2 linked regions of the Homo sapiens genome follow. The protein of the gene in region 1 purifies or fractionates together with the protein of each later gene. This does not show direct contact. Each region holds a gene or a part of one and is shown in the gene's direction. Other genes may lie near its edges.

The links. The genes of interacting proteins can lie anywhere in the genome.
Region 2: the proteins of ZNF131 (region 1) and GNB3 purify together in Homo sapiens (affinity purification with mass spectrometry; 2 studies listed by BioGRID and IntAct, with this or other methods). This does not show direct contact.

Annotation. Positions count from the first base shown.
Region 1 is NC_000005.10:43,158,825-43,162,476, forward strand, and holds part of ZNF131 (zinc finger protein 131), read left to right. Parts: intron 1-2,424; coding exon 2,425-3,107; intron 3,108-3,652. UniProt on the Homo sapiens protein: Plays a role during development and organogenesis as well as in the function of the adult central nervous system. May be involved in transcriptional regulation as a repressor of ESR1/ER-alpha signaling.
Region 2 is NC_000012.12:6,843,773-6,847,524, forward strand, and holds the end of GNB3 (guanine nucleotide-binding protein G(I)/G(S)/G(T) subunit beta-3), read left to right. Parts: intron 1-4; coding exon 5-206; intron 207-1,025; exon of another isoform or gene 1,026-1,813; coding exon 1,814-2,030; coding exon of another isoform or gene 2,031-2,197; exon of another isoform or gene 2,198-3,015; coding exon of another isoform or gene 3,016-3,019; coding exon 3,020-3,126; coding exon of another isoform or gene 3,127-3,131; 3' UTR 3,132-3,621; downstream 3,622-3,752. UniProt on the Homo sapiens protein: Guanine nucleotide-binding proteins (G proteins) are involved as a modulator or transducer in various transmembrane signaling systems.

The DNA of each region.
Region 1 (3,652 bases):
CATCCTTCCTTTTCCAGAAAGCCTTTTTTTTTTTTCCCAGCATCTTATTCTCAATGCCAAAAAACTGGCAAGAGCTATGAGATTTTACTCTACTTGCAAGCCTACAAGTTTTCCTGCCACAGTGTCATGGATGCTGGAAGAAGATAGAAGACTTCTGAGTCAGAAAGAAAGGACCTTATTACTCTCTACATAGCAAGCAGTATAAATTTCATTTTTATACCAGTTTTCCCTTCCCCTCAAGTCCCACAAGAGTGACATAGAGTGGCCCAGGTGAATGCATAAGATTGATTTATATTATAGCTGAAGAATCTCCAGCTTAGGAATCTCAAAATTTTTATAGTGGGCTACAAACAAACCTGCCTAACGTTTTTTCCAGAGTGGGGGCATTCTCTTTATTATATTGGACAATAAACCTGCCCTTTCATCTACTATACTATACTGCAAACATCCAAACCGAAAGTTTTCAGTTCACAAGATGTGAGGAAACTGAAGAGACTCAAGGAGAATTGTCTCCCAACAGGTGTCGTCTTTTACTGAGTTTACTGAGTTGTGAGAATCCTTTCTTCACTCTAGATATAAGATCTTTAGGCTGGGCACAGTGGCTCTTACCGGTAATTCCAGCACTTTGGGAGGCCGAGGTGGGCAGATCACCTGAGGTCAGTAGTTCAAGACCACCCTGGCCAACATGGTGAGACCCCGTCTCTACTAAAAAATACAAAAATTAGGCGGGCATGGTGGCAGGAGCCTGTAATCCCAGCTACTCAGGAGGCTGAGGCAGGAGAATCACTTGAACCCGGGAGGCAGAGGTTGCAGTGAGCCAAGATCGTGCCACTGCACTCCAGCCTGGGCCACAAGAGAGATACTCTGTCTCAAAAAAAAAAAAAAAAAACCAAACAAAAAATTTGACAGATAAATGTTTGCAACTATTTTCTTCTGGCCTGTGGCTTGCTTTTTTATTAACTGTATTTCAGAGGGCAGTTTTTAATTTTGATGAAATCTATTTTATCAATTTTTGCTGTTATGATTTCTGCCTTTCTTATGCTGTTTAAGAAATCTTTCAGCTGGGCAGGCTGGGCGCGGTGGCCCACGCCTGTAATCCCAGCACTTTGGGGGAGGCCAAGGCGGGCAGATCACAAGGTCAGGAAATCGAGACCATCCTGGCTAACACGGTGAAACCCCATCTCTACTAAAAATACAAAATATTAGCTGGTCGTGGTGGCGGGCGCCTGTAGTCCCAGCTGCTTGGGAGGCTGAGGCAGGAGAATGGCGTGAACCTGGGAGGCGGAGCTTACAGTGAGCCAAGATCACGCCACTGCACTCCAGCCTGGGTGACAGAGCGAGACTCCATCTCAAAAAAACAAAACAAAAAAAAAAACAAAAAAAGAAGAAATCTGTCAGCTGGGCACAGTAGCTCATGTCTGTAATCCTAGTACTCTGGGAGGCCGAGGCAGGAGGATCACTTGAGCCCAGGAGTTCAAGACCACCCTGGGTGACATAGTGAGACCTCGATTCTATCAAAAATAAAATTAGCTGAGTGTGATGGCACGCATCTATAGTCCCAGCTGCTTGAGAGGCTGAGGTGGGAGGATCACTTGAGCCCAAGAGGTTGAAGCCACAGTGAGCCAACATCACACCACTGCACTCCAGCCTGGGTGAGAGAATGAGAAATCTTTCACTAACCAATGTCACTAAGGTCTTCTCCTGTTTTCTTCTAGAAATTTACTAATTCTTAAATTTAGGTCTGTGACCCATTTTGAATTAATTTTTCATGTATGATATGAGGTAAAGGTTGAGGCTTATTTTTCCCATACACATAATTGTTCTAGCATCACTGTTAAATGATTAGCTTGGAACTTTTTTTTTTTTTTTTTTTTTTGAGACAGAGTTTCGCTCTTGTCGCCCAGGCTGGAGTGCAATGGTGCGATCTTGGCTCACCCCAACCTCCGCCTCCTGGGTTCAAGTGATTCTCCTGCCTCAGCCTGCCGAGTAGCTGGGATTACAGGCATGCCACCATGCCCAGCTAATTTTGTATTTTTAGTAGAGACGAGATTTCCCCATGTTAGTCAGGCTGGTCTCAAACTCCCAACCTCAGGTGATCCACCTGCCTTGGCCTCCCAAAGTGTTGCGATTACAGGCATGAGCCACTGCACCTGACTGGCACCTTTTTTTCCCCCATAAAAATCAGTTGACTAAGCGTGGGTCTATTTCCATGGACTTTATTCCATTAATCTTCGTGTCTATGCTTTCACCAGTACTATTGTCTTAATTACTGTAGCTTTAAGTCTTGAAATCAGGTAGGATAAGCCCTGCAGTCTTGTTTTATAACTGTTTATATAAATTTTATTGCCACTTTATCAGTTTCTTCAAAAAAGCCTGGTAGGATCTTCTTATAGATTTTTTAAACCCCTACATTATGTATTTCAGGAACAAAGAAAACTCAGCTCCCTTAGAGGAAAATACCACAGGAAAAAATGAGGCCAAAAAAAGGAAGATTGCAGAAACTTCAAATGTTATCACTGAGTCATTGCCATCTGCAGAATCAGAACCTGTTGAAATTGAGGTAGAGATTGCCGAAGGCACCATTGAAGTGGAAGATGAAGGCATCGAAACATTAGAGGAAGTGGCTTCTGCCAAGCAGTCCGTAAAGTACATACAGAGCACAGGTTCCTCTGATGATTCTGCTCTAGCACTGTTGGCAGATATTACCAGCAAGTACCGTCAAGGTGACAGAAAAGGGCAGATTAAAGAAGATGGCTGTCCATCTGACCCCACGAGCAAACAGGTAGAAGGTATTGAAATTGTGGAACTTCAGCTGTCACATGTGAAGGACTTGTTCCATTGTGAGAAATGTAACCGTTCATTTAAATTGTTTTACCATTTTAAGGAGCACATGAAATCACACTCCACTGAGAGTTTCAAGTGTGAAATATGCAATAAACGATATCTTCGAGAGAGCGCATGGAAACAGCACCTAAATTGTTACCACCTTGAAGAAGGTGGAGTCAGTAAGAAGCAAAGAACTGGGAAAAAAATTCATGTATGTCAGTACTGTGAGAAACAGTTTGACCATTTTGGACATTTTAAAGAACATCTTCGAAAACATACAGGTAATGAGCAAATACTTTGTTAAAATTTTTTTTTCCCACATGCACTTCAAATTTAAGTATCTAAATCCTTTTTAAAAAAATAGTGCCTCAGAAGCCATCTCATGTATTATCTCTAATGTGTAGGCTAAGTACACGTTTTTATAGTATTACCTGTTCAAATATTGGTGCTTTAAATGCAAATCAGTATCAACTTTGGAAGTAATTGTTACTTTTATGCCTTGCCCAATTTTTATATTTTTCAAAGAAATAGAGAAAATAGTTTGTGACTTATTTCCTAAAGATCGTAAATAATTAAATCTTATAGTGAGACTTTACCATTTCTATTTTTACATTTCTTGTGTCGTGTTACTTACAGTACATTTACAAGCAATCCCTGACAGCCAGGCGCGGTGGCTCATGCCTGTAATCCCAGCACTTTGGGAGGCCGAGGCAGGCGGATCACCTGAGGTCAGGTGTTCGAGACCAGCCTGGCCAACATGGTGAAACCTCATCTCTACTAAAAATACAAAAATTAGCCAGGCGTGGTGGTGGGCACTCATAGTCCC
Region 2 (3,752 bases), on another chromosome or scaffold:
GCAGTGCCTTGTGGGACATTGAGACTGGGCAGCAGAAGACTGTATTTGTGGGACACACGGGTGACTGCATGAGCCTGGCTGTGTCTCCTGACTTCAATCTCTTCATTTCGGGGGCCTGTGATGCCAGTGCCAAGCTCTGGGATGTGCGAGAGGGGACCTGCCGTCAGACTTTCACTGGCCACGAGTCGGACATCAACGCCATCTGTGTGAGTGCACCCCCCACCCCAGCTTCACTCCAACTCCTTCCCCGACACTCCCCACAACACATACAATACACATCCTCTGCCCCTCCCATAGCTTCCCTAGCCCTTTCTTACTGTATTTTTTTTTTTTTTTTTTTTTTTTTTGAGACAGAGTCTCACTTTGTCGCCCAGGCTGGAGTGCAGTGGTGCAATCTTGGCTCACTGCAACCTCTGCCTCCTGGGTTGGAGCAATTCTCCTGCTTCAGCCTCCTGAGTAGCTGGGATTACAGGTGTGCGCCACCATGCCCGGCTAATTTTTGTATTTTTAGTAGAGATGGGGTTTTGCCATGTTGGCCAGGCTGGTCTTGAACTCTTGACCTGAGGTGATCCTCCCACCTCAGCTTCCCAGAGTGCAGTGCTGGGATTACAGATGTGAGCCACTGTGCCCAGTCTTCCCTAGCCCTTTCTTTCTTTCCTTTTTTTGGAGACAGAGTCTCACACTGTTGCCCAGTCTGGATGCAGTGGTGCTATCATAGCTCACCGCAGTCTCAACCTCCAGGGTTCAACCAATCCTCCCACCACAGCCTCCTGAGTAGCTGGGACTACAGATGCGTGTGACCACGCTTGGCTAATGTTTTGATTTTTGTGTAGAGATGGGTTCCCACTATGTTGCCCAGGCTGAGCTGGAACTTCTGAGCTCAAGCGATCCTCCTGCCTCAGTCTCCCAAAATATTGGGATTACAGGCATGAGCCACCACGCCTAGCCCATTTTATCACGTTTGCTTTATCATTTTTTCTCTGTAGAGAAATAGCCATAGATACACACACACATACACACTTAGATGTAGATATACATTTTCTTTCTGTGTCTTTTGAAAGTAGGTTGCAGACATCATGTTTCTTTACCCCTTAAGTACTTCCCGAAACAAAGCCCTTCTGTAGCATAATCACTGTATGATTCTTAAGATCAGGAAACTCAACATTGACACAATACTACAGTCTACAGTCTATATTCAAATTTCACCAATAGCCTCAAAAATGTCCATAATAGCTCATGTTTTTTTCTGTCCAGGATCCAATCCAGAAACGTGCATTACCTTTCCTCGCCATATCTTTTTCGTCACCACCTTTAAACTGGAACTGTTTTCCCACCTTTGTCTTTTATGTCATTGACGTTTTTGAAGAGTACAAACCAGTTTTCTGTAGACTCTCCCTCCGTTTGAGCTTATCTGACATTTGCTCGCCGTGAGATCCAGGCCTTGCATTTGTACTGGACCCTGTTCTTACACACCCTGATCCAGCCCACTTGTGTAGTCTGGGAGTCTGGGACAACCTCCGTCCGCCCTTCTAGCCGGGTCACTGCAGGCAAGCCTTGGTGCTCTTGCCTGCGACGTGGAAATGATGCCTGCCTGCAGCGCTGTATAGTGCAGAGCGGGCGAGGGGCATAGGGAAGTCACTGGCACGTGGTATGTGTTGGCAGGGCTGCTTCTCACCCCAAACCAAGGGAGGGACAGGCAGGGAGGCTGAGAGCAGCGGCTTGCCCTGGAGCTGTCAGGTGGGAGGCAGAGGGCGGGAGAGGCTGTGGGCTGCCCAGGTCTGATCCCTGACCCACTTGCCACCCGTGCCCTCAGTTCTTCCCCAATGGAGAGGCCATCTGCACGGGCTCGGATGACGCTTCCTGCCGCTTGTTTGACCTGCGGGCAGACCAGGAGCTGATCTGCTTCTCCCACGAGAGCATCATCTGCGGCATCACGTCCGTGGCCTTCTCCCTCAGTGGCCGCCTACTATTCGCTGGCTACGACGACTTCAACTGCAATGTCTGGGACTCCATGAAGTCTGAGCGTGTGGGTAAGGGCCAGCCCTGGCTGCTGCTTCCTCAGCTGGAAGGACCCTCCCCAGCCCTCCCTCCCCATTCTGTACCCCCCATCAGCTCCCATTTCGGACTCTCTTACTGCTGTCCCTTGTCACTGGGTGACTCCACCCCTGGAATCCAGTACCCCTTGGTTCCCAACTAGGACTGTTTTCCCTCAGTGTTGCTCTAAGCAGCCTCTCTCCACTGCCCAATGCCATGACTGCTCCCTGCCCTAGGAGATCTGTGGACCATGACTGTCCAGTCAGTTCTGGGTTCCTGGCATTTCAGGGGCACCCACTGAGAGGCAAGACAGCCTCAGGGAAACATGGAATCAAGGCAGAATCAAGGAGATCTGGAGTGGCCCGAGGGCCCTGACTGCAGCCTAGGGCTCATCTAAGACTAGCCTGAAGTTGGTCAGATAGGATGGCTTCTTCTCTATCAAGAGGCCAGGTGCTGATGAAAATAACACTGGCCAGGGGCAGAATCCAAATCCTAATTCTGTTGCTCACTTTCTGAGTGTCCTTGCACAAGTCACTCCTCCATGGGCCTCAGTTTCTTCATCTGGAAGCAAAGAAATAGGATGAACGGTTGCCTTCTCTTTTCCAGCACCTGTCAAGGTGCCCTCGGGTTTTTTCATAGTACACAGATGCTTCCAGCCTTTCTCTGTCTGATCCCAGCCCTCCCCCAACCAAAGCTCTTGACAGAGAACCCCCTGCCCTACAGCTAATCCTCTTTCAGTCTCTTAGCCTTCTTCAGGGGTTGAGCCCAGTCTACCGAGTCTAGGATCCCTGCATGCATGTGCTCAAGCACACATGCACACACACACGTACACACACCCACACATGCATACACATGCACACATATCCCCCCACACACCCACATACACACACACACCCACACACCCACACATACACTTACACGCATGCACACACTGCTTTCCAAATCAGCTTGGAGAGACAGGCTGACTCCTTTCCCTCTTCCTCAGGCATCCTCTCTGGCCACGATAACAGGGTGAGCTGCCTGGGAGTCACAGCTGACGGGATGGCTGTGGCCACAGGTTCCTGGGACAGCTTCCTCAAAATCTGGAACTGAGGAGGCTGGAGAAAGGGAAGTGGAAGGCAGTGAACACACTCAGCAGCCCCCTGCCCGACCCCATCTCATTCAGGTGTTCTCTTCTATATTCCGGGTGCCATTCCCACTAAGCTTTCTCCTTTGAGGGCAGTGGGGAGCATGGGACTGTGCCTTTGGGAGGCAGCATCAGGGACACAGGGGCAAAGAACTGCCCCATCTCCTCCCATGGCCTTCCCTCCCCACAGTCCTCACAGCCTCTCCCTTAATGAGCAAGGACAACCTGCCCCTCCCCAGCCCTTTGCAGGCCCAGCAGACTTGAGTCTGAGGCCCCAGGCCCTAGGATTCCTCCCCCAGAGCCACTACCTTTGTCCAGGCCTGGGTGGTATAGGGCGTTTGGCCCTGTGACTATGGCTCTGGCACCACTAGGGTCCTGGCCCTCTTCTTATTCATGCTTTCTCCTTTTTCTACCTTTTTTTCTCTCCTAAGACACCTGCAATAAAGTGTAGCACCCTGGTACATCTGTGATGTTTGCCTTCTACTCTCTTCTGTTCCAAAAAGACCCAGGTCCCATTTAAGGGCAGTAATGTGTTACAGGTGCTGTGATAAAGGCTGGGTACTGGATAGCTTGTGGGCTTATGGGAGGAGGC